Linked DNA regions of Homo sapiens. The protein of the gene in region 1 interacts with the protein of each later gene in a pairwise test. Each region holds a gene or a part of one and is shown in the gene's direction. Other genes may lie near its edges.

Evidence for each region.
Region 2: the proteins of DUSP12 (region 1) and M6PR interact in binary tests that used the Homo sapiens proteins (3 or more experiments, as listed by UniProt).
Region 3: the proteins of DUSP12 (region 1) and HSPB8 interact in binary tests that used the Homo sapiens proteins (3 or more experiments, as listed by UniProt).
Region 4: the proteins of DUSP12 (region 1) and CCNH interact in binary tests that used the Homo sapiens proteins (3 or more experiments, as listed by UniProt).

What each region holds. Positions count from the first base shown.
Region 1 is NC_000001.11:161,745,386-161,752,872, forward strand, and holds the start of DUSP12 (dual specificity protein phosphatase 12), read left to right. Parts: upstream 1-4,400; 5' UTR 4,401-4,416; coding exon 4,417-4,760; intron 4,761-6,269; exon of another isoform or gene 6,270-6,282; coding exon 6,283-6,396; intron 6,397-6,480; coding exon 6,481-6,599; intron 6,600-6,982; coding exon 6,983-7,079; intron 7,080-7,487. UniProt on the Homo sapiens protein: Dual specificity phosphatase; can dephosphorylate both phosphotyrosine and phosphoserine or phosphothreonine residues. Can dephosphorylate glucokinase (in vitro).
Region 2 is NC_000012.12:8,946,539-8,954,312, reverse strand, and holds the start of M6PR (cation-dependent mannose-6-phosphate receptor isoform 1 precursor), read left to right. Parts: upstream 1-4,667; 5' UTR 4,668-4,825; exon of another isoform or gene 4,826-7,258; intron 7,259-7,488; exon of another isoform or gene 7,489-7,597; intron 7,598-7,774. UniProt on the Homo sapiens protein: Transport of phosphorylated lysosomal enzymes from the Golgi complex and the cell surface to lysosomes.
Region 3 is NC_000012.12:119,173,821-119,181,998, forward strand, and holds the start of HSPB8 (heat shock protein beta-8), read left to right. Parts: upstream 1-5,110; 5' UTR 5,111-5,492; coding exon 5,493-5,859; intron 5,860-7,346; exon of another isoform or gene 7,347-8,178. UniProt on the Homo sapiens protein: Involved in the chaperone-assisted selective autophagy (CASA), a crucial process for protein quality control, particularly in mechanical strained cells and tissues such as muscle. Displays temperature-dependent chaperone activity.
Region 4 is NC_000005.10:87,402,604-87,410,085, reverse strand, and holds part of CCNH (cyclin-H), read left to right. Parts: intron 1-722; coding exon 723-796; intron 797-1,899; coding exon 1,900-2,110; intron 2,111-5,078; coding exon 5,079-5,242; intron 5,243-7,482. UniProt on the Homo sapiens protein: Regulates CDK7, the catalytic subunit of the CDK-activating kinase (CAK) enzymatic complex. CAK activates the cyclin-associated kinases CDK1, CDK2, CDK4 and CDK6 by threonine phosphorylation.

The sequences.
Region 1 (7,487 bases):
CATCATCCTTCTTTCTCCCTTTTCCAACAACACATTTACACTTCGATGGGGCTTTCTGGCCTTTGTGCCTTTGAAGATGTTGGTCCTTCCGGTTAGAACTTCTTTCCTCATCTCCCTCCTTTTTCCCTGACAAATTCCCACTCATCCTTCAAGATGCAGATCAAGCATCACCTCCTCTGGGAGGCCATCCCTAATTACCCTCCTTCCATTAGGATTGGATGCCTCCATGTGCTCCCTTAGTACACGGCCCTTGCCTCTACTATAACACTAATTAGCTATTTACTTACTTTCACTCCAGCATTTCACCAAGTTCCTTGAGGGCAAAGACTGTCATACATCTTTATATCCTCAGCATCTACAGTCGTGCCTTATTTTACTTAGCATAATGTCCTCAAAGTTTTTATTGTTGTTGAGATGGAGTCTTGCTCTGTCACCCAGGCTGGAGTGCAGTGATGCGATCTCGGCACGCTGCAACCTCCACCTCCGGGGTTCAAGGGATTCTCCTACCTCAGCCTCCTGAGTAGCTGGATTACAGGCATGCACCACCATGCCCAGCTAAGGTTTTGTTTTCATTTTTGTTTTTTAGGATGGAGTCTCGCTCTGTTGCCCACGCTGGAGTGCAGTGGCATGAGTTCAAGGGGGTTCAAGTGATTCTCCCGCCTCACCCTCCCAAGTAGCTGGGATTACAGGCGCCTGCCACCATGCCTGGCTAATTTTTGTATTTTTAGTAGAGATGGGGTTTCACCATGTTGGCCAGGCTGGTCTTGAACTCCGGACCTCAGGTAATCTGCCTGCCTTGGCCTCCCAAAGTGCTGGGATTACAGGTGTGAGCCACTGGGCCCCGCCTTTTTTTTTTTTTTTTTTTGTATTTTTAGTAGAGACAGGTTTTCGCCATGTTGGCACGGCTGGTCTCAAACTCCTGACCTCAGGTCATCTGCCAGCCTCAGCCCCACAAAGTGCTGGGATTACAGGCATGAGCCACCGTGCCCGACCTCAAAGATAATCTATGTTGTAGCATGTGACAGAATTTCCCTCTTTTTATATGGCTGAATAATAGTTCATCATATGCATATACCATCTTTCTTTCTTTCTTTCTCTTTTTCTTTCTTTCTTTCTTTTCTTTTTCTCTTTCTTTCTCTCTCTCTTTCCTTCCTTCCTTCCTTCCGTCTTCCTTCCATCCTTCCTTCCTTCCTTCCTTCCTTCTCTCTCTCTCTCTCTTTCTTTCTTTCTTTCCTTTTTGGAGACAGAGTCTCGCTCCATCCCTTAGGCTGGAGTGCAGTGGCATGATCTTGGCTCACTGCAACCTCCGTCTCCTGGGTTCAAGCGAGTCTCCTGCCTCAGCCTCCCGAGTACCTAGGATTACAGGCACCCACCACCATGCCCAGCTGATTTTTGTATTTTTAGTAGAGATAGGGTTTTGCCATGTTGGCCAAGCTGGTCTTGAATTCCTGGCCTCAGGTGATCCACCTGCCTCGGCCTCCCAAAGTGCTAGGATTACAGACGTGAGCCACCGCGCCCGGCCCATACCACATTTTCTTTATCCATTAATCCATGATGGACATTTGGGTTACTTCTACCTTTTTGCTATTGTGAATAATGTTGCCATAAATATGGGTGTGCAAATATCTTTGAGATCCCACTTTCAATTCTTTTGGCTATATAACCTAGAAGTGAGATTGCTGGATCATGTGGTAATTCTATTTTTAATCGTTTGAGGAAACTCCGTACTGTTTTCCCTGGTGGGTGCACCATTTTACATTCCCTTCAGCAATGCATAAGCGTTCCAATTTTTCCACATCCTTGCTAACACTTATTTTCTGTGCTTGAAAAAAATACTAGCCATCCTAATGGGTGTAAGATGATATTATTATTGTAGTTTTGATTTGCATTTCTCTAATGATTAGCAATTTGAGCATCTTTTCCTATGCTTTTTGGCCTCTTGTATATCTTCTTTGGAGGAATGTCTATTCAGGTCGTTTGCCCAGTTTTTTGAAAATTGGGTTACTTGTTTTTCTGTTGTCGAGTTGTAGGAGTTTTTTATATGTTCTGCATATTAACGTATCAGATATATGCTTTGCAATTATTTTTTCCCATTCCATACAAATTCCTTTTCTCTCTATTGACTGTTTTGCTTGATATGCAGACACTTTAAAATTTGATATAGTCCCATTTGTCTATTTTCGCTTTTGTTGCCTGTGCTTTTGGTATTTTATCCAAAAAATTGAGGGAGAAGAAAAGGAAAAATCAGTTAGGTAGACAGCTAAGGCTAGCCCTTGGAGAAGCAGTCTGCCTGAAAAATCACAGCTACAAACAAAATAGAGCAGCTTAGGCAAAACTCAGGCTGCACCTGCACAGATAAGCAGGTAGGGTCCAGCACAGACGCTTTTCATTCTTCGTGTAATTGGCGAGCTCCCAGGAAAAACTTTCCTCCCCTTTTCAGGTATATACACAGTGGACTCCGTGGGAACTTGCACAGGAAGGAGGGGGGCTTACCTAAAACAAACCTACAGTGATACAAACAAGAGAACCCACGCTTTGTGCTTGCCTAGAGACATACCCACATCGGCAGAAGATAAGGGAAGTTGCACAGACAGATTTATTCATAAGAGAAGTTACTCAAACAACTATAGAGATGAGAGGAGTTTCTTATAATAGGTTTTGAATTCAGCTGTAAAAATGGCACCCCACTTGGGCTCCCCTCTCTGCTGTGGAGAGCTTTCTTCTTTTGCTTATTAAACTTTTGCTTCAACCTCACTCTTTGTGCCCATGCTCCTTAGTTTTCTCGGTCGTTAGACAAGTTCGGATAACACCTTAGACAATGAGACCATTAACCCTTACCTGTTTCAACATTTTTATCAAATCCAAGGCCATGAAGCTTTCCCCCTATGTTTTCTACTAAGAATGTTATATTTTTAGGTCTTTAATCTATTTGGAGTTATTTTTTGTGTATGGTCCAAGGTAAAGGTCCATCTTCATTCTTTTGCATGTGGATATCTAGTTTTTCCCAACACTGTTGAGGAGATTGTCCTTTTTCCATTGTGTGGTCTTGGCACTCTTTTTGAAGATTATTCTAACATATATGCAGTGTTGCAGGTGATTAGCAGCTTTCTGGGCTGGTGACATGGGTGGTAGGAAGAATTTACCAACACAGTTGTAGGTAAAGAAAGGCAGGTTTATTAGATAAAGTATGAAAATACATTGCAAGGGTGCAACAGGCAGGTCAGCAAGAGAGAAGCTGACTGCTAGGAAACAAAGGCTTGCTGGGGATTTTGTAGAATGGTGCTTATGTTGTGGGTGGAAGAGGGCTTTGTGCAGTACTAATAATGCCAGGGTTGCAGTGAACTAACTTCCATTTTTCTATCAGCTGAGGGTCTGGTGATGGCTGGGCACAGGCAGATTGTGAGTTATTTGCACAGCAGGGCTATGTGTCCTGGACCACGAAGAAAGGCAGACTTATGGCTTGTCTGCTTTCTCCTTTTGCTTCCCTTCGTCCAGCCAGCCTGACTCCTTTTCCCTAATTAGGACTCCACACGCAAGGGTTTGTTCTGTTCCAGAATAGAGACACGTCGATGTATCTATCTTTATACCAGTACTATAGCTGCTACTTCTTGACCAATTACAGCTTTAGTATCTCTCTCACCTGTCCTCCCTATACAAAAGATATATAAAATATACTCACTGTACTGAGTATCTTCCTGCAGCATTCAGTCTGGAGCAAAGCCTGCTTCCTTCAACCCTTTCCAAAATCCCCAAATAAAAGCCCAAAATCTGTAGAGGATCTTCCTAACATCCTCGTGCTGAGATGCCCTGAAATTCTCCATAACTCATGACTGAGTAATAAAACCAACTTGCTTAATTAAAGTTGGTTTCTTGTAGTCCTGGCCGGAGGACATTGACTTACAAAAATATAGGATTAGTATCTTCAAAATAAATAGACAGTAAACATCAACAAGGATTCACACCCCAATAATGAAATTGGGCAGAAAAAGGAAAAATAATCATGAAATGCACAGTAAAGATGGCTCCATAATATTGAAAAAAATTTTACTTCAAATGCATAAAATGATGCTTCTGATTCAGCTGGTGCGACATTTATTTCACATTTGAGTTCAGCTGCTCCTGATGTCTCTTTCCTGAAAATTTCAATACTAAGAGCTCGAGAAACCCTGTATTTGGGGAAGCTTATCCTTCACCATCAACTTTGGGGGTAGGGGTCAGAGGGAACAAGGGTGGAAAGGCCGCGCTGAATGGGGCCGAAGCTCCGCCCCTCAGCGATAAGTCCAGATTCCTGCGGCCGACGTGGTCCTCCGAGGGAGCAGCAGAGCCGCCGAGGCTGGCGAGTCCCAGGGGAAGGATGTTCTAGCCGGAGTCTACTCGATGGTAGGGCAGGAAGCCGCCTTGTCTCTGGGCGCGGCCATGTTGGAGGCTCCGGGCCCGAGTGATGGCTGCGAGCTCAGCAACCCCAGCGCCAGCAGAGTCAGCTGTGCCGGGCAGATGCTGGAAGTGCAGCCAGGATTGTATTTCGGTGGGGCCGCGGCCGTCGCGGAGCCAGATCACCTGAGGGAAGCGGGCATCACGGCCGTGCTAACAGTGGACTCGGAGGAGCCCAGCTTCAAGGCGGGGCCTGGGGTCGAGGATCTATGGCGCCTCTTCGTGCCAGCGCTGGACAAACCCGAGACGGACCTACTCAGCCATCTGGACCGGTGCGTGGCCTTCATCGGTCAGGCCCGCGCTGAGGGCCGTGCGGTGTTGGTGCACTGGTGAGTGGCCGGGTCAGTGGGTGACGTGCCCCGCCAAGCTTCCAGCCGGCCCCCGTCGCCCCTTACCTTCCGAGGCCGTCGGGAGGACAAGAGCGCGGTCATGCCGCGTGAACCTCCTCCCGCTGCCTCCCGCAGGAGGCGTGTTTCCAAGAGAGGAGGAGGGTTGAGGCGGGCCCCTGGTGTGTGCAGGCTTTCATTCATTCATGCTTTAGTTGGTTCTTCCTGCAGCAGCAGAGGGCGGGGGAGGTGTCATCTGATAAATGACAAATTACCTACACCCTAAGGAGTTTACAGCTCTGTTGGAGAAGCTAGACACCCACCCCGATTATTGTAATGCAGATTAGGTTGCTTGGTGTCTTGTAAACGGGATTTACAAAGATTTAGGGTTAAATGTTTTTGTTTGGGATGGGTGGCGGGTGGTTGATGAAGAGATGAATTGGTTTGGATCTAAAGGATCCCTGGGCTTTGCCTAGGGAGGAGATGGTTGCAGCAAAGACAAAAAGAAAATGGGAATCCCGCAGGGCGCGGTGGCTCACGCCTGTAATCCCAGCACTTTGGGAGGCAGGAGGATCACAAGGTGAGGAGTTCGAGATCAGGCTGGCTAATATGGTGAAACCAAAAATACAAAAATTAGCCGGGCGTGGTGGCTCTCGCCTGTAGTCCCAGCTACTCGGGAGGCTGAGGCAGGAGAATCACTTGAACCTGGGAGGCGGAGGTTGCAGTGAGCCGAGGTCATGCCACAGCACTCCAGCCTGGGCAACAGAGCGAGACTCCATCCCTCCCCCCAAAAAAAGAAAATGGGAATCCCTAAGCAGTTCTTGGTTGGATTGGAGTATAATAATCGTTTAAATTTATTGAGCACATAAAAGAAGATAGTGATGAAATCAAAAGAAGTCTGGGACCAGATTTTGAGGTCCCTGAATGCTAAGATGAAAGGAGATTGGATTTGTTTTTGTTTTGTTTTATTTATTTTTATTTTGATATAGGGTCTTGCTCTGTCACCCAGGCTACAGTGTAGTAGCGTAATTACGGCTCACTGCAGTCTCAACCTCCCAGGCTCAAGTGAACCTCCTGCCTCGGCCTCCAGAGTAGCTGGGACTACAGACCCCACCACATCCGGCTAATTTTTTGTAGAGGTGGGGTCTCACTTTGTTGCCCAGGCTGGTCTCCAACTCTTGGACTCAACCAATCCTCTCACCTCGCCTCCCAAAGTGCTGGGATTTCAGGCGTAGGTAAGCCACTGTGTCTAGCCAGGAGTTTGGATTTGTTCTGAGCCATTATAAAAATTTTAAAAATTACTGTTATTATTTTTGAATAGGTAATAGATTCACGTGGTTCAGAATTCAAAAGGAAAAAGGAATAATTATTTTGTACCTTGATAATATTTCAGAGGCAATGGGCTTATTTGAGAAGCAAAAATGAAGTGGGCCTAAACTTTACTATTAATAGGGGGCTGGGCTTTGTGTGTTTTTTTTTTTAATTGTTGCTATTTGCTGTTTTATTTTAAAGGTCTCTTTTTCAGTCATGCAGGAGTCAGTCGAAGTGTGGCCATAATAACTGCTTTTCTCATGAAGACTGACCAACTTCCCTTTGAAAAAGCCTATGAAAAGCTCCAGATTCTCAAACCAGAGGCTAAGTGGGTTCTTTTTTTATAGTAATAATTATGCTTTTGTGATATAATTTTAAGAAAATGAAACTTTATATTTCTTTATCATTACAGGATGAATGAGGGGTTTGAGTGGCAACTGAAATTATACCAGGCAATGGGATACGAAGTGGATACCTCTAGTGCAATTTATAAGCAATATCGTTTACAAAAGGTTACAGAGAAGTATCCAGGTAAGTAATAATTGCTAGTGTGTAATGGGCTTTCTAGATGACATTTACTTTAGCATTGTATGCTTTACCTTACTTCCAGCAATCCCTGAGAAACTATTGTTTCTTTTTGAAACTGATTTAGCCAGAAATAACCTATTCAAAATCACATGGTTTATAAATGGCAGGGTCAGGATTTGAATTCAGGCAGCCCGTGCCCAGAACCTAAGCACTTAAATCACTGTCCTCTCCTACCTTAGCCTGATTTCTCAACACTGGAATTTGATTTTTTTTTTTTTTTAATTTTTGAGGTTAGCACTTGTTGCCTCAATTTGACATTAACTGAATTTATCTGAAAATGCAGAGTTGATTTTGACAAATAAATACATTTTAATTATGTCATATAGAATTGCAGAATTTACCTCAAGAACTCTTTGCTGTTGACCCAACTACCGTTTCACAAGGATTGAAAGATGAGGTTCTCTACAAGTGTAGAAAGTGCAGGTAAACTATTTTATATCCTTTGGATATTTTATCTTGTCTCAGTAGCTGAAAAGTACTTAATGTTTTATTTTCTTAAATTTCTGTAGGAAGATTTTGTTTAATTGAAATTTTTAGTTCAGATCTGTTTTCAGAAAGAATATAAATTCTTAAAAAGAGAAATAATCAGATTGTAAGGGTTATTGAAAATTTAAGTAGTGTAATCAATGTTACATTATTTTGTTCTCTAAGCAATATTGCACATTTTGCTGGGCGCAGTGGCTCACGCCTGTAACCCCAGCACTTTGGGAGGCCGAGGCAGGCAGATCACCTGAGATTGGGAATTTGAGACCAGCCTGGCCAACATGGTGAAACCCCGTCTCTATTAAAAATACAAAAATTAGTTGGGCATGGTGGCTGGTGCCTGTAATC
Region 2 (7,774 bases), on another chromosome or scaffold:
CGTACCTTTTGACCTACATCTTCCCATTTCCCCTACCCCGCCCCTGGTAACCATCTTCCTACACTGTTTCTATGGTGATTTTTTTCAAGACTCCACATACAACCGATATCATATCATATTTTTCTTTCTGTGTGTGTCTTATTTCACTCAGCATGATGTCCTCCAGGTCCATTCATGCTGAATGCTACAAGATAAAATCGGAACATCTTATGTGCCTGAAAGTAAAGAATTCCTCAAAAAATCATATGGACATGTCAAAAGGATAAAGGAGGCACCACTAAAAGGCTCCCACTGGCTGCTCAACAGAGGCCCACACCCTCCCGCAACTTCTCGGCCTCATCAGTGGGTGGACTGCATGTTCCTGTGGTAGGAAACACACCCTCCCCTCAGAGATCTGAATCTCTAATCTTGCAGGTGGGGAAGGGAGCATTTCCTTTAACTTAAGTAACTCCTTTATTAACTCTTCTTCAGCCCTAGAAGTAACAGCTCCTTTTCGTAGCTGCTTCTTCTGTATCATAGAGTCCTCTTTTAGTAACTGATCATCTTTTACTAGAAAATAATTCTTTAAATTTTTCCTGTTAAAATCGCCAATATGATATCTGTTTCTGAATGGACCCTGATTGATATAAAAACGTATCACTTCCCTTGCATTTCTATCCAAAAAAAATGCAAACTTAAATATAATCATGAGGAAATGATAGCCGCAGGAGGCAGACAAATGCCTAGGCAGATCCCCAGTGAAACCCCATCTCCAAGCTGAAGACAGTTTAAAGCCTGAAAGCCAAGCTACAAGTCAAATCCATGGACCGGATTAAAAACCTGTCTTCCCATTTGGCACATTTTTCTTTGATTGATCCCCACCTTTCACCCATTTTATATACACCTACCCTTTCCTAATTGGTTTTCTACACTGTCGTGCCCACCTTTGAGTGGTGTCTTCACTTTAACTGTTTTTGCATACTCACAAACCAATCAGCACACACTTTCCATTCTGAATCCATAAATGCCCAGACCTAGCCACATTGGGTGAGAAACCACCTGACTGCAGGGGTGGGGGACCACCTCCACCTACCACATCCCCTCTCCGCTGAGAGCTGTTCCATCGCTCAATAAAATTCTTCTCCATCCTTCTCATCCTTCAAATTGTCAGCATATCCTCATTCTTCTTGGATGTGGGACAAGAGTTCAGGAACCACCGAATGCAGATACAAACTATAACACAGGCAGCAGGTCAAGTGAGGCCTGGGGGTTTTGCGGGGGGGGGGTGTCACTAGCTATGGACGGGTCCCTGGTTGGCAAAGTGACCGAGAAAAATCCTACATCAGATATATCAAACAAAACCAAAATGAAAGACATTCTACAAAACAAGTGGCCAGTACCTATCAAAATTTCAAAGTCAAGTAAGATCAATGACAACTAATTACAATGTGTGACTCTGGCTTGGCTCCTGTGATTGTTGGGAAATCGGAAGTAACTATACATAGCATCTATTGAAACGTGATAAAATTTTGAATACAGACTATGGATTTGGTAATATTGTATTAATACTGTAGTTCCTGATTTTGATGAGAGGATGTCCTTGTTTCTAGGAAATACACACTGATATATTTAATGGTAATGGAAGTTTACTCTCAACCTGTTCAAAATAAACTAATGTATATGGAGGGGAAAAAGATGAATTTAGGTAAAATGTGTACCAGAGTTCTTTGTATTATCCTTGCATCTTCTCTATAAATGATAAATATATTAAAATTGAAAGTTACCAAAAACTATATTTAGTCCTTGAAATATGGAAAACATGATCATTTTGAAAAGCATCTGAGCCGGGCTCAGTGGCTCACACCTGTAATCCCAGCATTTTGGGAGGCTGAGGCAGGCAGATTATTTGAGTTTAGGAGTTCAAGACAAGCCTGGGCAAAAATGTGAGACCCTGTCTCTACAAAAAATACAAAGATTAGCTGGGCATGGTGGCTTGCGCCTGTGGTCCCAGCTACTTGGGAAGCTGAGGTTCTAGGACTGTTAATTACCTTCCTCTCTTATGATTATACAGAACAGGAGGCATCCTTCCCATTTGATTTCAGACCAACAATCCTAGAACTGCTTTCTAAACAAGGTGAACAATTTACCTTGTGTGAGAGAAGGCAGTGTGGGTGTAGGTTTATTGTGGGGAGTGTGCTTGTTAATAATGAGGCTAAGAAAGGAGGCAGGCCAGAAATGCAAACAAACAAACAAAAAAAAATTCTGCTCATTTCAATTTTTGCCCCAGCAAGAACCTTGAGCTCAGTTCTCAGAGGTGAGAATTCTAACACAGAAAGCACCCAGAAAGGGCACTGAGGTCTGAGAAGCAAGGAAGTGACCCAGGTTGTTTGCCTCTGGTCGGAAAGGGAAACTACCCCTGCTTCCACTCTGACAGCAGACAAGTTAATCAACCTACTCAATTGCATTTTTGGCCCATTCCCCATTTCCAACATGAACAGTTCCTCCCCTCCAGCCCAATGCCACTCTAGGCAGTCACCAAGAGGTAAGATTTCTGAAATCAAAACTTGAATTAACCAACAAAGGAACATCAATTCTAGAACGGATTGTAACAGGGATTTTTGTCTTTTTTCTCTGCTGTATCCCCAAGATCTATATTATATATTCTGTGGTTTTGGCACATAGTAATTGCTCAGTAAAGCTGTGTTGAGTTACTTGATAAAAAATAAGTCAGTAGAAATAACTTAAATGCTCAACATTAATGTCATTGGTTAAGTAGCAATGCATAGAACTAAATATTATGCTATTAAAAAGTTTATTTGTAAAGTCAAGGATATGGAAAAATATTTGATACATACATATCTTTTTGAGATAGGTTCTCACTCTATCACCAAGGCTGGAGGGTAGTGGCAAGACCATAGCTCACTGCAGCCTCCAACTCCCAGGCTCAAGCAATCTTCCAGCCTCAGGCTCCCAAGCAGCTGGGACTACAGGTGTGCACCACCAAGCCCAGCTGATTTTTTTTTTTGAAAGAAGGGGTCTCACTATGTTGCCCAGGCTAGTCTTGAATTCCTGACCTCAAGTGATCCTTCTGCCCCGGAATCCCAAAGTGCTGGGATTACGGGCATGAGCCACAGTGTGGGACTGATACATTTTTGAAAAAAGGAAACAACATATATTCATGAAGGAAATACACACCCTCCTGGTGAGTTTATGTATGATTTTTGTTTTGTTGTTTTCTGTGTTATCTGATCACAAATTACTTTCATTTTCAGGAAGAAAAAAATTTAATTTTTTTTTTTATTGGGGCAACATCCAACCCAGATATGATTACTACCTAGCCTGAACTGAATGTATTACTAATAAACAAAGAAATGCAGAATGGCATACAGTCGGTAAAGCGTAGTGCTTGAGAGCATGGATTATGGAGACTATTTAAATACTGGCTCCATAACTTAATAGCTTGGGACCCACGGTGTTACTTAGCTTCTATCTGCTTTAATTTACTCATCTGTAAACTTGGGATAAGATACTTCCTCATAAGGTTGGTGTGAAGACCAAGTGAATTAACTATCGTTTAAAGCACTTACAAAAGTGCCGGGCACCACCGAGATATGCATCCGTTAGCTTTTATTATTATTAGACTCAAAACACTGTAGTAGTTCTAATGAGAGGGGTAAGAATCAAAAATCCAGGCACCTGCATAGAGCCAGAGAGGCACACATAGAAGCAACGTAAGAGTGGAAGCGGAATGAAAACATGCTAAAGCCAGGTACAAGCCACAAGCGAGGGTCCACAGGAAGAAATTGTTAATTCTGAAGAGAGTGAATGCACGAAGTTACAGGAAAAATAACATCTGAACAGAGTTTAAGAATGAGCAGGACTTCAACAAGTGGCTAGTAAGACATAAGGAACCTACAAAAGATCTTAGCAAAGGCGCAAAGATTACCATCGTATTGCTCGTTTCTTCCTACTTTGCAGAAGTAACCTCTGGCGAACAGAGGTGGTTGCAGAGCATGCTTATCAAGCAAAATACCACGAAGCAGTAAGGAACGACAGAGATAACAGTAACAATAATAATTCACCCCAAGGTACTCAACTGGAAAAAGGAAATACAGAGGAGAGGTGTCGTTAAGAAAGCCAGGACGCACATCACGGCCCCGTCGCTGCACTACTCTCGTCTAGGGGTCAACAGTGGAGTCGAGACTCGAAGCTTCCACGCGGCGGAACAGCGTCCCTCTCAGGCGGCGAACGGGCTAGGGAAGCGCCCGGAGGAGACCTAGCGTGAGAACTACAACTCCCGCGGAGCCCGAGGGCGAGCTGCCTGCGTAACTTCCGCTTCCGCCACCTGCCCCTCTCACCCTCTTCACTCGAACCCTACCCGGGAGCGGTCAGGCGCGTGACCCCGCGTGACCGGGGTGCGCGAGCCGAGAGGCCCTGGAAGCGGGACTCTGGGACCCCATTGAAAGAAAGGCAACCAGAAAAGGCGAAACGACAACCTCGATAGTGATTGGAGCTGATGGAACGAGGGCGGAGCTAAAGTCCCAGAATACTGGCCAATCAGAGTTTAAGATTATCAGGGAGCCCGGGAAGGGGAAAGGGGCGAAATGGTTCTATGGTCACATGCCGCGGGGTCTGGTGGGAGGAGCGGTTGCCCAGCGGCCTCTTGGCGCTTCCTGTTTCCGGTTCCCAGAGTGGGGCACAGCGAGGCGCTAGGGGGAACGCTGGCCTCTGAAACTAGCTCTGGGACCGGGGTCTGCGGCCGGCCCCTAGCTGGCCCCGTCTCCCATCCCCAGAAGGGTATTCACTGGGGATTCTGAGCTTTGGCTACTCCAGTTTCCCACGACACGTGAGTGTGAGGGGCGTGGAGGAGGAGGCGGGCTGGGTTGCGCTCACACTTAAGCGTCTGTGACAGGAGCCGGAATCGCATTCTCCCTTGACCATGGTTCTAGCCAAAGATCTGGCTGAGGAGCCCTAAGGGTAGAATGGAGGCGGAGGCATGAGAGCGGAGAGTCACGGAGTTCCGAAAGGTGTGAGGGAGAAAGGACTTCCAAGACCAGAGAGGGGATTTACGATATTTAGAAAGCAGGGAAAGGAAAATACCCCAAGTATGGAGTCCGTTGGAGGTGTTGGTGGATTTATTTGTAGGAGGAATTTTGGCCTGCATCACGGTGGGAGGTCAAGTGGCATCATTTGGAGAGGGTATGGCTACAAGCGCTTGGAAAGTCGGGACACTAGACAGAGCGAGAATTTCTGGCACCCTGGGAGAGCTTTGAGGGGGATGCGACTGTGGTGTGGATAAGAATGGCTGATGGACGGATTATCTTGTGTTCCTCGTTGTGGGGAGCTTCCGCTCTTGGGACATAGCCGCTACTTGTCTGAGGCTCCTTCTCTCTTGAGTTCTTTCAGCATTAGGCCTTTTAGCCAATTGAGGCTGCTTTTCTAAACATGTAGGCTGCTGGAGAAAAAGGGATAAGGACTGCTACATCAGAAAGGAGCCAGCGGGAAGACAGTAGAAATTCCACTGGTAAATGGCCATGGCTGTCTTAACAGATGGGGAAGTGAGTGCTACAGAGGCCCAGTGGTGTAAGCTGCTTCCCAGTTGCTGGCTTAGTCATTGGCCACCCTAATAAAGGATAATTTTTAGCATTGCCAAATAAAATAGATCTGTCGTTAGAGAATAAGAAAACTGAAAGATTTTTCAAGATCATAAAATCCTGCTCCTTATTTCCAAAGTATATAGACAAACTCTTGTACCTTGAGAATCTAATTGTAGCATATTAAAAGGGGGCTACTGGGCCCTTCCATTTCATTCTCTTCCTGATTGTTGCACCCCTATGTTTATAAGTTTTCCAGCAGTTATCTTTATGCCACGAATCGTCTAAATTGCCCCAGTAACTTCACACACATTTAATATCTGTGTAATGTACAGCAAGTAATTTAACAAGTAATTCTGTAAAGCATCAGTTTTCTCATCTGTGAAGTATGAAAAATTATACCTATTTTCTGGGTTGTGAAGATGAATGAACATAATCTAGGGAAAACATTTAGCGCATATGCCACTGAATTAAAGAGAAGCAGCTTAAATTTAAAGACAAGCCTTAAGCAGGAAAGAAGAATACAGTATAAATTTATTATCCTAACTTTTTGAATAATAAGCAAATGAAAGATAGTTCAACTCAGCTAATGGCTGAGGTGTTTAACCTTTCATCCCTTCCTAATTTTGTGAGATTCCTTGTTCTAATTTAGGAAAAGAAATCAACTGTCAGTTTTTAATTAGGTCCTGAGAGACTGGAAAGGAAAATGGCAGGCTAAGTCAGTCTAGAAGAAGGAGTCTCCTATTTCTTTTTAGTGAGTCAGCTGGTCAAGTTGTGTGTTGAGCAGTGGGTTAACTTAGGGAAGGTGGGAGTTGGAGGTCTGAGTTCTTTATTTCACCTCCTATTCAGTCAACTGTGTGAGGAATCACTTCCCCTTCACTTCTTAGTAGAAAAAAAAAAAAACCCACAGTTTTGGCTGTCTACTCTCATCTCCAAAAAATTGTTATGCACATAGTGGAAATATACATGTAGTTGTTCAACACAGACCATGAGCTCTGGAGCTAGACTCTCTGGCTCACTCCACTAGCTGTGTCTCAGTTTTCTTACTGGTAAAATAGCAACAATAATTGTATTTACTCATAAGGTTGTGAGGATTAATTAGTTAATTAATATATGTTAAGTGCTTTGAACAGCACCTGGCCCAAGGCAGTAGTCTGTTGTTTCCTGCTGTTGTGTGGTTTCAGTGCATTAAATGTGTTATGAGGGCCTTGGACCTCTTGGTTAGCTATGATTATTCTATGGAAACTACCATAATATTACAGTAGAGAATTGATGTTTGGGGTACAGGAAGTCAGGTAGACAATTTCCCGGGATTTTTTGCTTTAGTGGGGTGTGGGAAGTGGAAGGTCAGATGTTAGGTTGTTTAGGGGAATGGGGAAAGTGCATTCACGGCCAAGGTTGGAGCTTCCATTTTCCCATCTTCAAACTCATTAGTACCCATGAAAATTCTGCCTGTTTCAAGTTTTATATTTTAAAAATGAGGTGGAGTAAGTGGACCCGCATGAAAAAGAACTAGAGAACTTTAAAGAATATTCAAACCAAAGTCCAGACTTGCAGCGTTTTTTGTAAGTGAGAAAAGTTTAGAAGAGTTAAATCAGGAAATTGTCCGTGATACTCTTGGAATAAACAAGTAGCAATGGCCTGAGGGATCATTAACAGATACCAGAGTAAAGTGTTTTGCAAGGGTAAGTCAGTCTGTCCTGGGTATGAAGATGGATAAGAGAAAAGAAAATGTTAGGTTTTGGTGGGGTTTTTTTGCCAAAACCACAATGACCTTTGCACCAGTCTAGTAAGTTTGGGAAAGAGAGCTGTCTGTGTGTTTTCATTCCTAGAGCAGTACAAGCAGCAGGTGCATTGAATTTACTCAATTGTAAAGTGGCTTGGTGATCCCCAATTTGTTGTCATTGATTTGTAGTGTAAAAGACAACTGTACTTATGGGAAGTCTAGAAACCCTTGAGATTTGTGACCTGTAGAGGCCAAAGAGGTTTCAGAAGACTACATCAAGCCATCAAACAGTAAAGAGGCAAGGATGGCTCCACCCAAGCTGTCATCATTCTTTTTTAAGTTCTTTCATTTCCCTCTTCCCAACTTTGTAGTTTGTTCTGAAAGACTCACCTATACATTAGACTACAAGTTACATATAAATGAATTTTCTGCTGCAGATGCTCTTGTTACAGAGATATTAAAATGTACTATGTGT
Region 3 (8,178 bases), on another chromosome or scaffold:
GGTGAGAATTAAATAATTTGATATATGCAAAGCACTTACAATTGGTACTAAATGTTAAATATGCACTTATTATTATTATTACTACTGCTATCATTATTATTTGCAGAGGTGGTCAGGGAAGGCAATTCCTGGAAAGAATTTTGGAGAAAATAATAGAAGAAAGCCAGAGCTCCAATAAGTAAGTGTTACTTTCCCAGGATTGTGAGGGCATAGGCTCATTTAGGGAGGGACCCAGTGCAGGCTGTTTGTTTTATTTTGTTTATTTATTCATTCTTGCTGGGGTGTGTGGCAGAGAAAAGAGGCCTGGGCTTAAAGTTCAGACAGACCTGGGTTCAGAATCCATAAGCTGGTGGCCTCAGGCAGGTCACCTCATGTCTTTTGCCTCAGTTTCCTCATCTGTAAAAAGGGAATAATGATAGTATAAAACCTCTAGGGGGCTGTGATGAAAATTAAAAAGAGCACGCTTGGGAAACCTTGGTGCCCGGCACCTTCTATGGACTGCAGAAATTAGTTAATATGTTGATGTTGTTACTGCATGTAGAGTCTACCCAGTGGGAGTTGGCAATTCAGACCCAGGGTTGCTGATACGACATCATCTACTCATCCAAGATATGCTGGGCTTCTACAGTGCAGCAGGCTCCCTCTAGGCGCTGGGGATGCTACTGTGAACAGGACTCCCAAGGGTCCTGCTTTCATGGAGCCGAGTATGCTGGGAATTCCATTAGTGTCATTGTAGGGGGGGTCTGAGAAACAAAAGAAATAAAAAGGCATGAGCATGCTTACTTCCTATTTTCTGGAGGATGTGCTGGGATCCAGAGCCACCCAAAAGAACTAACTCTGAGATGGGTCTTCAGACCCTGGGGAGGGGCTGGGGGCTGGGAATCCCCTAGGGGAGGGTGGGAACTTTTGTTTCTTACTACATTGAAAAGAAAAGGCACAGAATCTGGCAGCTATGTCTTTGTCCTACTTGGTCCCAGCACTACCTGTGTGGCTTCAGACTACTCTGTCCCCACCAGCTGGTCCCCAGTTTCAGGCATGCAGGGTGATCTCACCTACCTCCTGGGCTGTTTTGAGAATTAATGGTGGTACGCCCCGTACGAAAGCTCTATGAGGATGGCAGCCAAGAGAAACGTGGCTCTGGTTCCCAGGATCTAACATCCTTCCCCTGTACCACAGTCCCCTCTAAGGTCTCTTCTTCCCTGGCGGAACCAGCTTGGAGGCCCCTTCTTCTCCCGGGCCTCCCCTGAGCCTGGCGTCATATTTTCACCTGATTGGTGACAGCCCATGGGGTTTAGTGACCACTTTCCTCATGTGTTAGCTAACTCCTCACCAGGTGGCCGAGTTAGCAGGAGCAGCTGCCTCCCTCCTCAGCTTCCTGAAATGAAGGGCTGACCAGATCCAGAAATGCAATGAGAGCCCAAGGGGGAACAGGACACCAGGCAGTGTGGAAGGCTCGCTGGGCAAGGCTGGGCCAATATTGTCCCATAGTGGTTATTACCGTGCACTGCCAAGTGCGCCCTGGCTTGGATTCCAATCCTTGGTCAGCTGTGTGGTCCAGGGCAGGTGGCTTGACCTCTCTGAACCACAAGGATTCCATGAGGTCATGGATAAAACTGTTGACCACAGGGCCGGGTACATGGTTAGTGTTCAATAAATGTGAGCCATGACTTTGACTTCAGAGGCAGTGTAGCAGATGAGACAAGAACCAAACTGCCCGGGGTTCAAATCCCAGCTCTGCCACTGACATAGGCATGTCAGGTAATCTCTCTGTGCCTCAGTTTCCTCATCTCTAAAATGAGTTTAATAAAACATCCTTCCTGACGGGCATGGTGGCTCATGCCTGTAATCCCAGCACTTTGGGAGGACGAGGTGGGTGGATCTCCTGAGGTCAGGAGTTCGAGACCAGCCTGACAAACATGGTGAAAACCTGTCTCTACTAAAAATACAAAAATTAGCCAGGGGTGGTGGCAGGTGCCTGCAATCCCAGCTGCTCTGGAGGCTGAGGCATGAGAATCACTTGAACCCGGGAAGCAGAGGTTGCAGTGAGCCAAGATTATGCCGTTGCACTCCAGCCTGGGCAACAAGAGTGAAACTCCATCTCAAAATAAATAAATAAATTAAAAACATCCTTCCTAATAGGATTGTGGGGAGAAGTAAAAGAGTTTAGGAACATACATTTAAAGTGCTCAGAACAGAAGCTGGCACGGGGCAAGTGCCCCGTAAATGCCAGTGATTGTTATTTCTATTTTCTACCTTTGCATCCTCCCTTTCGTCCCCCTCATCCTTGAAATGAGAAGGTGGATTAGGTCATCACAGCTCGGTTCCCTGCTCCTTCGCCAGGCTTCCCCTCCTTCCAGGTCCCCTGGTCCCAACTGAGCCTCATTTGAGGCAGAGGGGTCCTCTGGAGGTTTGGGGATGGCCTGGGAAGGGAAAAGGAGGGGAGTTTCTTCCTGAACATACCCACCAGCAGACTCGGCGATAAACAAACACAGACCTATCGGCGCATAAACACAGACTCACTCCTGCACCCACTCAAATCCGCACACAAACTCATTCCACTCTGTCCCACCCACTCAGAAACCTCACCCCAGCCCCTGCCCAGGTCCCAGGCAGGGCCAGGTTTCTCCGGTGCGTCATGCGGCTTGCAGTGATTCTCCCCACAACTGGTTTCCAACTCAGCCAGCCCCGCCCAGCTGTAATTACAGAGAGAGCTGAAGCTTCTGTGCCCAGCCATGACGTCAGCCCGAAGCTTCCAGCCTGATGAGCTCACCCTACATCCAGTGGGGGCCCAGTCACTCGGGACATGTCATGCCGTGGGGTCCCCACCATTCTTTCTCAGCTGGGGAGGAGGGCAGGGGTCTCTGTCTGTCGGTTAAGCACAGATCCGGGATTCAGAACAACCCAGGTTCCCACCCAGGCTCTGCCACTCCATATCTGTGTGCAAGGGTCAAACCTCTGTGCCTCTGTTTTTTCACCTGCAAAATGGGGGTGATGATAATAGTGACGTTTAACTATCGAGTCAGGATTTAACTCAGTAATGTCTGAAATGTACTAACTCTAAAAGCAGACGCACAGGAGGCAATGGGCGACAGTGATTGTTTTTCTCCGTATTATTATTTTTAGCAAACTGCCTCATGCACTCACTGTTTAATATCAAAACAATTTCTCAACCTATGACTCACTGAATTCCTTAATATCCTCAGTTTACCCTCATCTCGTGAAGAAGGCAGGGCTGAGACCCGAAAGCCCACACAGGGAAAACGACATGCCTAAAATTTTCTGCCTGTTGCGGACAGATCAAAGATTAGAACCCAAGCCGAAGAGGCCTCCAAGCCAAAGGAGGATTTGTAAATTCATTCTTCCAGCTGCATGGGAAGAGCAGGAAAGTCTAGATTTGGGGCTTTGAGTTTCAGACCAGACCTCCTGCCTGAGTGTAACATCTTTCAATAATTATCAGTATTAACAGTCATAATAATAATAGAAGCTACTATTCATGAACACTTCTATGGTAGTTTTCTCATCTGTAAAATGGGATAATACTGGTACTCTTACCTCACAGGATTGCTGGTGAGGGTTAAATGAATTCATATTTATAAAGCCCATAGAGCAGGGCCTGGCATATAGCAAACATTATGTAATTGATAACTCAAAATTGAAAATACAAGGAGAAAGAGAATTACCTCATGTATTCTTCATGGTACATCTGTGAGTTGGCTACTGTTATGTCCGTTTATAAGGAGGAAAACTAACAACCTGGAGGTGCCTGGGAATAATGTTACTGCCTATAAAGATGCTTTGATTGACCAAACATTAATCGGATTTCTGAATCTTCTCCTAAGCCCATCAGTGAGGTTCCTTATAAAAATTCAGTTTTGGGCCAGGCGAGGTGGCTCACGTCTGTAATCCCAGCACTTTGGGAGGTGGAGGCAGGTGGATCATGAGGTCAGGAGTTCAAGACCAGCCTGGCCAAGATGGTGAAATCCAACTCTACTAAAAAATACAAAAATTAGCCGGGCACGATGGCGGGTGCCTATAATCCCAGCTACTCGGGAGTCTGAGGCAGAAGAATCGCTTGAACCTGGAAGGCGGAGGTTGCAGTGAGCGGAGATGGCGCAACTGCGCTCTAGCCTGGGGGACAGAGTGAGACTCTGTCTCAAAAAAAAAAAAGAAAAGAAAGAAAGAAAAATTCAGTTTTGGCATGAACTCTGCTAAGTCTGTTTAGTAGCAACCACCCATCTTCGATTTCTGATCACCCTCGATATCTGATTAGTTTCCTCATCCTCCGCGGTCCCCCAGGTGATGTCTGAGCACCCTGGCCTGTCTTCAGCAAGAATCCTCTTAGGTTAGCTGAGCCCGAATCCCTCTGACTCCTGGACTTCCCTCCTAGTAAATTTCCATTCGCTGACCCCCCACCTGCTTCTTGGCTACAAATTCACACTTACCCATGACCTACTGGGAATCAAGTCTAATCTTTCTCCCTCACTGCAAAATCCCATTGCAGGGGTCCCTACATCTATGGAGAAAGTTTCCCTGCCCAGTAAAGTCTTGCTTGTCATACTTTAACAAGCGTCATATGAATATATATATACACATTAAAAAAATTTTTTTTTTCCTTTACCAATCTCCCCAGAGGGCATTGAGGCTCTAGGAGCTTGGCCATCTTGTAAGTGGGGATTGCAACCCAGGGCCATCCTTCAAATCCACTGGGCTCCTGTCTCTCTCTTCCCTTTCTGCAGGTCCCCAGGGGAAAGGCAGGATACGACACGCTCTAGGGAAGGTATTTCCAGAGGGTGACCTGAGCCCTCAGCCAGGCTCGGGGTTATTAATAGCCAGGCCTTAGTGCCCCGCTCGGGGAGGGCGGCTCCAGCTCCTGGAGCAAGAGGAGGGCGGAGCTGAGCGGAGTGGCCAGGGGAGGAGAGAGTGTCCGGAGAGGCCGGCTGAACTTGGACGCGGCCCCTCCCAGCTCCCCCCACAGCCCAGCTGTTCCCTCCGCGGATTCTCCGGGGCTGGTTCATCACCTCCGAATATTCCTGTGACAGGAGACGCTTGCAAAACCCGCCTCCAGCCTCCAGCAGCAAATAAATAGAAGGCTTGCAGCCCAGAAGGAGCCAGAAGAAGTTTCTAGGCGCGCGTGCCCTGGGTTTATTAAGCTCCTGGCTCCGCTCTAGACCTCAGCGGTTCTGGCTGCCAGCCTGGGCAGCCTGGGAAGCCTGGGAGGACGGTGGCTTGCCGGTCTGTCGTGAGGCAGTGCGGACGGGGACCCTCTGGGATTCTGCTGGATCTGCCCCGGGGGTTACCTTTGGGGGCTGGGACCCCAGTCGAGGGGACACAACCGTCCCTGGCAGTGGTTGGTTCTGCTTCTCCCTGCAGAAAAGCAGCATTTTCGGAAGCTGAAGAATAAGCTAGCCCAGCCACACCACCTTGTTGTGTGACCTTGGGCAGGTGGTTCTGTCTCTCTGAGCCTCTGTTTCTCTCTGAGCTGAGCAGCCACCATGGCTGACGGTCAGATGCCCTTCTCCTGCCACTACCCAAGCCGCCTGCGCCGAGACCCCTTCCGGGACTCTCCCCTCTCCTCTCGCCTGCTGGATGATGGCTTTGGCATGGACCCCTTCCCAGACGACTTGACAGCCTCTTGGCCCGACTGGGCTCTGCCTCGTCTCTCCTCCGCCTGGCCAGGCACCCTAAGGTCGGGCATGGTGCCCCGGGGCCCCACTGCCACCGCCAGGTTTGGGGTGCCTGCCGAGGGCAGGACCCCCCCACCCTTCCCTGGGGAGCCCTGGAAAGTGTGTGTGAATGTGCACAGCTTCAAGCCAGAGGAGTTGATGGTGAAGACCAAAGATGGATACGTGGAGGTGTCTGGTAAGTCAGGGGCAGGAGGGAGAGAGAATGGGGAGGCCGGGATGTAGCCCTCAGCCCTGGGAATAGCCAGAGAAAGTTTCCTGGGAGCTGACGTTGGGACAGTGTGACACAGGTGACCTCAGGGCTCAGGAATGCAGCCTGCAAAGTTATCTTTACGGAAAACTTCTCTCCCGGCTCCCAGCAGAGATCTTAACCTGCCTGACTCAGCTATTGGGGCCTCTGGGTGCTCATCAATCATGGTACAGACAGGAAAATAGAAACCATGTTGGATATTTTGACAGAGGGCATTTAATATAAAGAATAGGTTAAGCAGATATCAAAGAATTAAAAAACAAAGAAGAAACGGGATTTTGTGCACTCCAGCATCATAACAGAGTCTAGAAGTGCACGTTAAGGCTGAACAATGATAGTGTTAATAACCGCAACTGGTTTCCGGTGAAACACCTCTCCTTGTCCCAGACAGGGAAACTGAGGCTTACCAGTAATTGTAGTAACACTAACTGGTAACTCTGAGTGCTAACTATTCGCTCAGCACTTTGCTAACTGCTGTTGCCTATAATATCTCAGCTAATACCACAACCAGAGGAGGTGGGTACTGTTTATCTTCTTTTTTCAGATGAGGAAACTGAGGCACGGAGAGATTAAAGTAACTTGTTCAAGGCCACCAAGGAGTCAGACCCAGGTTGTCTGGGAATTAGGAGGCCAGAAAGAAGAAGTGATGATTTACTGAGCACCTACTAGGTGCCAAGGGTGGGCTGACATTCTTATACTTCTCCAAAATCATCCTCAGTCCACTCCAGGGTAGCAGGGTAGGCCCATCTTGCAGCTGAGGAGGCTGAGGCCTAGGTGGGACTCGTTCACAGTCATGCCATGAGTCAGCAATAGGAGTGGAGTAGGGACTGGGCCTATGCACAGCTTTAGGCCCAGGGCTCTCACTGCCGCATCCCACCCTGGGAGAAATAAACATACTAGGGGGAAAAATGAGAGAAGACAGGAAGCTCAGCCCCTGTGAAGCTGGGCAGTAGAAAAATCTTTCTTTTCCTTCCCTCCTGATTAACACTCCATTAAAAAGAATGTGTTCCCGGCAGAGGCTTGCCTTCCAGAAAATCAGTCAAAGCCATTGCAAACACAGGCTGGGCAGGAACAAGCCCCAGCAGCATTCAGGGGGAGTTTCAAGCCAGTCCTGGTAGAATTATAAACATCAGAGGCTCCAGCGGGTGTGGTGGGCTGGGAGACACGCTGGGGCCACGTGCTGATGACAGGGTCAGCCAGATTTCTGAGTTGGCTGGGGAGCAGGGCATGAGTTCCGAAACTGGCTCCAACTTTAACCAGCAGGATGTGCAAATTACTTCACTTTGTGCTTCTGTTTTGTTTCCTCATCTGGAAATTAGGGTTCAAATGGTTATACCATAAGGATTGTTGTTTTAAGTGAGGTGATGCTGTAAAATGTGTACATACCTGTGAACCCAGAAAATCTGAGACAGATCTCAGTTCATTTAGGAAGTTTATTTTGCCGAGGTTGAGGACACTCCCATGACACAGCCTCAGGAAGTCCTCCTGTCACATGCCCAAGGTGGTCTGGGCACAGCTTAATTTTATACATTTTAGAGAGACATGAGACATCAATCAATATATGTAAGAAGTACATTGGTTCGATCTAGAAATGCAGGACAACTTGAAGCAGGGAGGGGTTTTCCAGGTCACAGGTAGGTGAGAGACAAATGGTCGCATTCTTTTGAGTTTCTGATTAGCCTTTCCAAAGGAGACAAACAGATAATGCATCTATGTCAGTGAGCAGAGGGCTGCCTTTGAATAGAATGGGGGGTAGGTTGGCCCTAAACAGTTCCCAGCTTGACTTTTCCCTTTAGCTTAGTGATTTGGGGGCCCCAAGATTTATTTTCCTTTCACATTCTATGACCTGGAACACAAGGAATTAGTATTATTATTGTCGTCGTTATTGTTATAGTGTCAGGCATCCAGGAAGGCCCCAATAAATAATGAATAATAGATGCTCTTTGAAACCTGGGTTCAGATCCCAGCACTGCTGTTCACTAGCATGGCGGATGTGGACGAGAAAGTCTTCATCCCTCTGAGCCTCATTTCTCCTATTTGCAGAATGGAGACCATAATAATATCTGTCCTGTAAGGGTGTAGGAAAGATTAAACATATGCAGACTATCTATGATAATATATGCGGAGTGTCTATAAAATGGAGCTAATAATAGTGCTTGCCTGGCACTCTGTAAACAGACCGATTATCACCATTCCTTCTGTCCTTGTTTTAATTAGGGTCTTAGATGCTTCTAGCCCAAGTCCAAG
Region 4 (7,482 bases), on another chromosome or scaffold:
AAAAGTACAGGCAGGTCTTACTTGAATTCATTCCTGTTCCTTATTAGCTGTGTGACCTAGATAAGTCAGTTAACCTCATTGATACTCAGTTTCCTTCTCTGTAGAGATAGTAATACTTCACCAAGCTGTTGTAAGGATTAAAACATGATGATAGTTTCGTGTTTAGCACAGAGTCTGGCACATGGTATACATTCAATAAATGGTAGTGCTGCTTCTGCCATTCAGTTGGCAGCAGTGATCACAAATCATGGAATGGATACATGGTTATATCACAAATATGGAGTGGCTTTAGAGAGAAGGCTTATTGCCTTGCCCATGTTTTTTTGTCAGTATTTTTATAAGATTGGTTAATCTGTGAACGTTTGTATTTTTCTTCCTGAATTTATCTAATTCAGAACATTTTTGATAGTCTGATTTCTAATACACACACACACACACACACACACACACACACACGTATTTTTAAATCCAGTGACCATAGGAAGGATTAGCCAGAGTAGGCTGGGGATAGACAAGCAAAGGATGGGAAAGAATCTTTTGGCTATGGCATTTCTGTAGTAATTCATCACAATTTGTTTTGATTAAAGAAGAATTAATGAGTATTAGTATTTTTCTGGGTAATCTCTACAAAGAAACCTTTCCATAAATAAGTTCTGTTTCACAAAATTTAACATTTAACATTTGTGACTAGATCCTGATGATATATTTTTTTTAACCCTTAGGGTACGGCTTGTATGTATTTCAAACGTTTTTATCTTAATAACTCAGTAATGGAATATCACCCCAGGATAATAATGTGAGTATGTCTGTCTAATATATTGTTTTCATTTAAGAAGACCTTTATAATCTTTTGAGTATTTTTTGGGAGGAGAGAATTGTGAGAGAGAGAGAGAGAGAACTGACTTCCTAATACAGGGTAATTTAGACTTGAATTCTATTTTTTTTTTTTTATTCAGAACTTGAGATCTCTGTTTACCTGTACTTCAGTAATTCTGATGGTATGTGAACTTCAGCTTGTCCAGATTCAAATTTTGTTTTTCTCAAATTAGCTACTTCTCTAACATCTCTTCCTATTAGACACCTTTGTTCTTCCAGTTGTTCAGACTGAGAATCATTTATAGTGGCCCCTCCCACATCCAGTCAGTTTACGGATCCTATAGCTTCATACTCATTTCAGTTGAACAAAGGTCTGTTGTTGCTGCTCTCTGCTGAGCGCTGTGTCTATCATTAAAAATGAAATTAGTATGAAACTCATCAAAGAGTTTGCTCTCAATGACATTGTACCTGTTTTCTCTTTTTTGATTCCCATTTCCACCAGTCAAGATTAGGCCCTTGATCTCACTGCCAACTGTTTTTTACAGTAGCTTTCTTACTGTTTTCTCATACTGAACAGCATGAAGTGGCCAGGTGAATTTCACAAGTTTGTCCCTTAAATAATAGTCCCTTATTCAGATGCCCTTAGAGACTTCTGCCGATGGCCTTCCACAATGTTCCTTTAACCTACTTTTCTTCCCATACTTACATGGTACATATGTGGGTACTGCTTTATTTTTAACTCTTCCATCTACATTATACAAAGTACTCTTATTCCTCAGTTAATTTGTTTTTCCAGATATTTAGGTTGTACTGCATAACACTGTCATTGAGTCAGTGATGTTTGAATGCCATGGCAATATTGGTTTGACCTAATTTTATAGTTGTCTTACGTCTCCTAATGAAGTGTGAACAGGAAGTGTCTTTTAAAAAACAATTCTTGCAATGTCTAGCAGTCGCTTTTGAATATTAGGCAATTATAGAATATACTTTTAGAAATAAATTATTTAGATACTTCTCAAAGTATATGCATGTTCTTCCACCCCACCCACCCCCTGCCTCCTGCCTCCTTATTTTTTCCTCTAGGCTCACTTGTGCATTTTTGGCCTGCAAAGTAGATGAATTCAATGTATCTAGTCCTCAGTTTGTTGGAAACCTCCGGGAGAGTCCTCTTGGACAGGAGAAGGCACTTGAACAGATACTGGAATATGAACTACTTCTTATACAGCAACTTAATTTCCACCTTATTGTCCACAATCCTTACAGACCATTTGAGGGCTTCCTCATCGACTTAAAGGTAAACTTGATGTAAAATAAACTAATACTACATTCTCCTTTCCTATTCTTTAACAAAAGAATCCAAAATTTTAAAACTCATAATCATCCTCGTTGTTATAGCATGGATACAACCTGTGGGTCTGGCCTGGTCATCTAGGGCAGTTGTTTTCAAACTTCAGTGGGCATCATCAGTCATCTGGAGAAATTGTTAACTGAGATTGTTGGGTGGGACTTACAGAGTTTCTGATTTAAGTGATCTGCAATCTCATTTAAGTGATCTTCATTACATCCAGGGATGTAATGAAGACCATTGAGAGTTTAGAACGGTGCTTACTATAAAGGCTTAAGATAACTCTTCTAACTTTGAATTATATTGTCATGGATCTGGGCCTGATTTAAACCATAAAAAATTCTTAAACTAGAAGATTGCTAAGTGACTTATATTTTTAGAGGTTTGTGAACTTAAGTCACTATGTAGGCATCAATAATATACGTAAACAAACATTGACAAAAGCAACTTTTTTAAGTTGTTTTGTTTGGCTCTAAAAGAGAAGTTGGATAGTCTGAGTCGAATCAAATCAGGAATTGGTTCATTCATGTTAGATCAGTGGCTCAATTTGGGTACCTTCTATGTGCCAAACTTTGTGCTTGAGGATGTAACCAGAAATAGGACAGGAACAGTCTCAACTTTTGTGAACCTTACAATCTAAAGGTTTTAGACAATCATATATCCAGTGTGCTCAATGATACAGAGGGGAAAATATATTTTAGAGGGAGATAACAGATTAAGGGGTAAGGAAAACATTCTGAGAACGTATCATTTAAAATAAAATTCAGAGTAGGAATAGGAGAGAGAAGAACATTCCAATCAGAGACTTCCCTGGTAAAAAGCTCAAATTCAAGAAACCATTCCGTGCTGAAGAGCCTGAACAGAGCCTAGCAATGCAGGGGGAAGAGATCACAGACAGCTGCTGCCAGAGTGGAAGGCAGAGTCTAGACTGTGGAGACAATGTTACAGATTTTGAATACAGCAAAGAGAAGCTAGTGAAAGGTTTAAATTTAGAGAGTGGCATGATTAGATTTGCAGCTTTAAAAGATCATGTTGGCAACCTTATGGATCAGGTATTTATCGCGCATCTGTATGTGTCAGGCATAACGTGGAGAATGGATTAGAATAGATTAAGTCAATAACAGGGTACCGTTAAAGGAGTCCAAGCAAAAGATAGTGCTGGGCTTCACTCGTATGAAGGTTGTGGATACAGAAAGAGCTTCCTGGGCTTCAGAGATACAGGATGAGTATCCCTTATCTAAAAAATTTGGGACTAAAAGTACTTGGGATTACACTTTTTTTTTTTTTGATTTTGCAATATTTGCATTGTGCTTACTGGTTGAGCATCCCAAATCCAAAATCTGAAATGCTCCAATGAGAATTTCCTGAGTGTCATGTCAGTGCTCAGAAACTTTCAGATTTTGGAGCATTTCGGATTTTGAATTTTTTGGATTTGTGATGCTTAGCCTGTAGTTAGGTAGAATCAATAGAACATGAGGATTGATTGCATATAGAGATGAAGACAGAGGAAGAACCCCCAGGTTTCTGACTGGGTGAGAGTTTTTTTGTTGTTGTGTTTTGTTTTATGGAAGAGACTGATGCACATTTAAATACTGAGGCAAAGAGCTAGTAGTGAGAGCAAGATGAAATACAAAATAGTCTCTTTGGAGTAAGATGGAAGGGGGTTGGCATGGGATTTGGAAGCAAGGTATAAGAACTGGCCTTAGAGGGAATAATAGCTCTTTCTCTTAACAGTGGAAAAGGGGAAATCATGGGTTAGGATACTGTTATGCCTCAGGATTTGGTGTTGACAGGAAATAGCGCCTTTCTTTGGTAAGAGATAGTTTTCTGAGAGTGATGGAGTTTCTGAGAATTATCAAAGACATTAAGACAGATGGAAAATATTTATGCAGTCACTGAAAAATAGGAGAGTCAATTGTCTGTGGAAATACTATGGTTGCTTGGCAGTGTTTAAGAGCCTTGCTGAGGTCAATGAACATGAGTTTATAGTAACATTACCAGACTTCTGCTTGTATGGTTTTCTCTGGCAGCCCTCAGAAATCTTGGTATAGTTGCAAAGCGAAAGTTTGTTGGATTCAACCACTGTTCAGTTTCTGGTTTTGCCAGAAATTTGTTGGCAGCATATTGGGGCAGGGAATTCAGGAGAGAAATGAGGACCAGAGGACACTGGTGAGTGGGAGCAAGTAGAGGGATAAGTGAGCAAAGGTTCAGAGGAGGGAGAACAGCTGTGAAGTAAATGAGTAAATATATTAGAAAGGGAGGCATTGTGGTCAGAGTAGTGGGTCTGAATTTGTCATATCACAGGTGAGGCATTTTTGCATAATTGACTCTGAATATTTTGTTTCAGAGTGTAGAAAAGCTTTCTTAGTGCTTTAGGTGTTGCATATGGATATCTGAGGACTTAGGATTTATAGTTTATTTTATAGGGTATGAAGAACTGTCAGGAAATAGGAGGTCTTCCACATCTCTTGGGCATACTCTAAAACTTTTTCTGTGGGAATTCGAAGTCTAGTGTGTTCTAATCAAATCGAGATTCATTTTTATTTACTTCTTCCTGAAAGCAAATTTTAAATAGAAGGAATTTCATATAAAAATAAGGTGTATTCCTACATGTGGCCTTACATTTGAATCACCTGGGTTGCCTGAGAGAAGCATTTACCTGGGAATATGTATTTCTTGGCCCTACTTTAGACTCAATGGAATCTCTAAGAGCTTCCCTTCCCTCCCCTTCCTACTCAGGTGGAAAAGGACCAAGAGAAGGGATTAATGTAAATTGAGGACAGTGTCAATTACTGTGCTAGGAACTTTAGATATGTTATAGCATATATTTCTTAATAGGAGTTGTGTAATTTTTAAACTGTTGTTATACTCCATTTAAACCCTCAGAAATGGTAACATTTGCAAACTTTCTTTGTAGACCCGCTATCCCATATTGGAGAATCCAGAGATTTTGAGGAAAACAGCTGATGACTTTCTTAATAGAATTGCATTGACGGATGCTTACCTTTTATACACACCTTCCCAAATTGCCCTGACTGCCATTTTATCTAGTGCCTCCAGGGCTGGAATTACTATGGAAAGGTATTAATTAGTTTTTTAACTTAGGTCAAATTCAGTCACTGGGTTTATTTATTCATAGAATCATTTCTGACTGTAATCTTTAATATTCTTTGTGGCTGGGATGGTTGGTGAGAAGAAGAAATGAAATTGCCTTTTGAGGAAATCTTTAAACATCATGAAAAATACTGTTAAACTAAGAGGATACATTTAGGATTAAAGTAGAAGTAAACCAGGTGATCCTTGAAAGACTGATATAGCTATCAGTATATGACAAATTTAGAAGTTCCTGTGAACTGGTGAGCAACTTGAGTGCAGCAAATGTCTGCCTTGTTTTATCTTTATTCCCCTTCTGTAGAGCATGTATGACACGCGGAAGTTAAATATTGTTAACTAACTGAAGCACAAGCTAGCAGCCAATTAGACATTTTTAGTTTCTATATTAAGTTTCTCAATTTATGACCTTTGAGGTTCTGCTTGATTTCATTCCTAGAAATAGCTGAGGAAGAAAGATGATAAAACTTCCTAAAGTTAATTAAAACTATTTTACATGATTATAATCCCTTATCCATAATTTCAGAATCCATTGATAAGGTGGCAGCAAATAGAGCAGATTGTATTTAGTTTTTATTTCACTTAATAGGAATATTTGTGTTCCCTTGCAGAAATCTTAATATTCCTGATTACAGACATCACTTGGGTATTTCACATTTCATAATATATACACCAGATAACTTTTCTAAGACATGAATACTTATTAATAAGAATTTCGCAACACATCTGCATCTAGGATAAGGGATTGTAGGTTTATATTTTATTTATGATATGCCTGTTCTCTGCAAACGCAGCTCACCAACTGTATATAAATGTATACGTTTAATCCCAAAGTGATTTATATCTCCACTTATTTACTAAGCAAACATTTATTAGATACCTTCTATGTACTACTATGCACTGTACTACACTTTAGGAGTATGAATAAGATAAATCTCTGTGTTAGGAAAGATAGTCATGTAAATTACTGATGTATATGGAGTTAAGATGTGGACTTCCATTAATTTTGTGGGGGTTGGGTGGTTATTTTTTTTGAGACAGCATCTCACTCTCACCCAGGCTGGAATGCAGTGGCACAGTCAAAGCTCATTGCAGCCTCAACCTCCCAGCCTCAAGCGATCCTCCTACTTCAGCTTGCTGAGTAGCTGGAACCACAGGCACACACCGCCACACCTTGGCTAATCTTTTTGTTTTTTTTGTAGAGTTGGGGTTTCCCTATGCTGCCTAGGCTCATCTCAGTCACTCCTAGACTCGAGTAGTCTCCTGCCTAGGCCTCCCAAAGTGCTGGGGTGACAGGTGCACACCACCATACCTGGCCTGCAGACTTCATTCTGTAAGGGAACAAAAGTCCTCTTTTCCACAATTCAAATAACCAAAAGTTTGATTAATCTTGAAGCATTGTATATAGTGCATCTATAAATTCTTCAGTGAAGGTCCAAATGAATTTATTTCATCTTAGAAGTTTAGTTCATTATAATTCCAGGAAGGCAAAATTGAAATTGCCATACCTTTGGCTCCTTGCAAATTTAATAGGCTTTCGTAACATTCCCAGAGACTAGACATTGGGCCTTTTTTTTTTTTTTTTCCTTTAGGGAAATGCTTTCCAAACGTTTTTAACTTACAGCTGATTTACAGGCAAATTTTTGGGATATGTGGAAATGAGCTTTACATTTATTGCTGATTTCAAAAGGGAAAGCCCCTGTGCTGTTGTCATAGTCTGGATAATGCCTCAGATTATTAATCATAGGATTATTACCGTTATTTCTGGATTTTCTTCTCTTTCTTGCAGATTTAGAGCTTTATTTTTCATCTGCTACTTTAGGTATTCTTATTGCCTGTGGATTTTATTAAAACACCACAATATTATAAGTTCAAATTCAAAATTGAGGTTAAGAGTTGCTAACTTCACAGAGATAATGAGTCTAGTCAGCCAACTCTTAGCACCAAACCTATGACCCTTATGCTTAAGAAATCAAAAGGAAATGAAGAGTAAAAATAAAGGAAGATGACAAAAATGGGAGGAATTTTAGGTAGGAGAGGGAAAGGAAAAAACTAGTTATTTTGAATTACTGGTAGCCAGAAATGGATTAGTTGTCAGGAGATTTCCTGATTTTCAGATCCAAAATTTATTCCCACAGTAGATGATGATGATGTAATATCAAACAGTTACCAAACTTTATAATAAAATTTAAATAAATCTGGATAAAGAC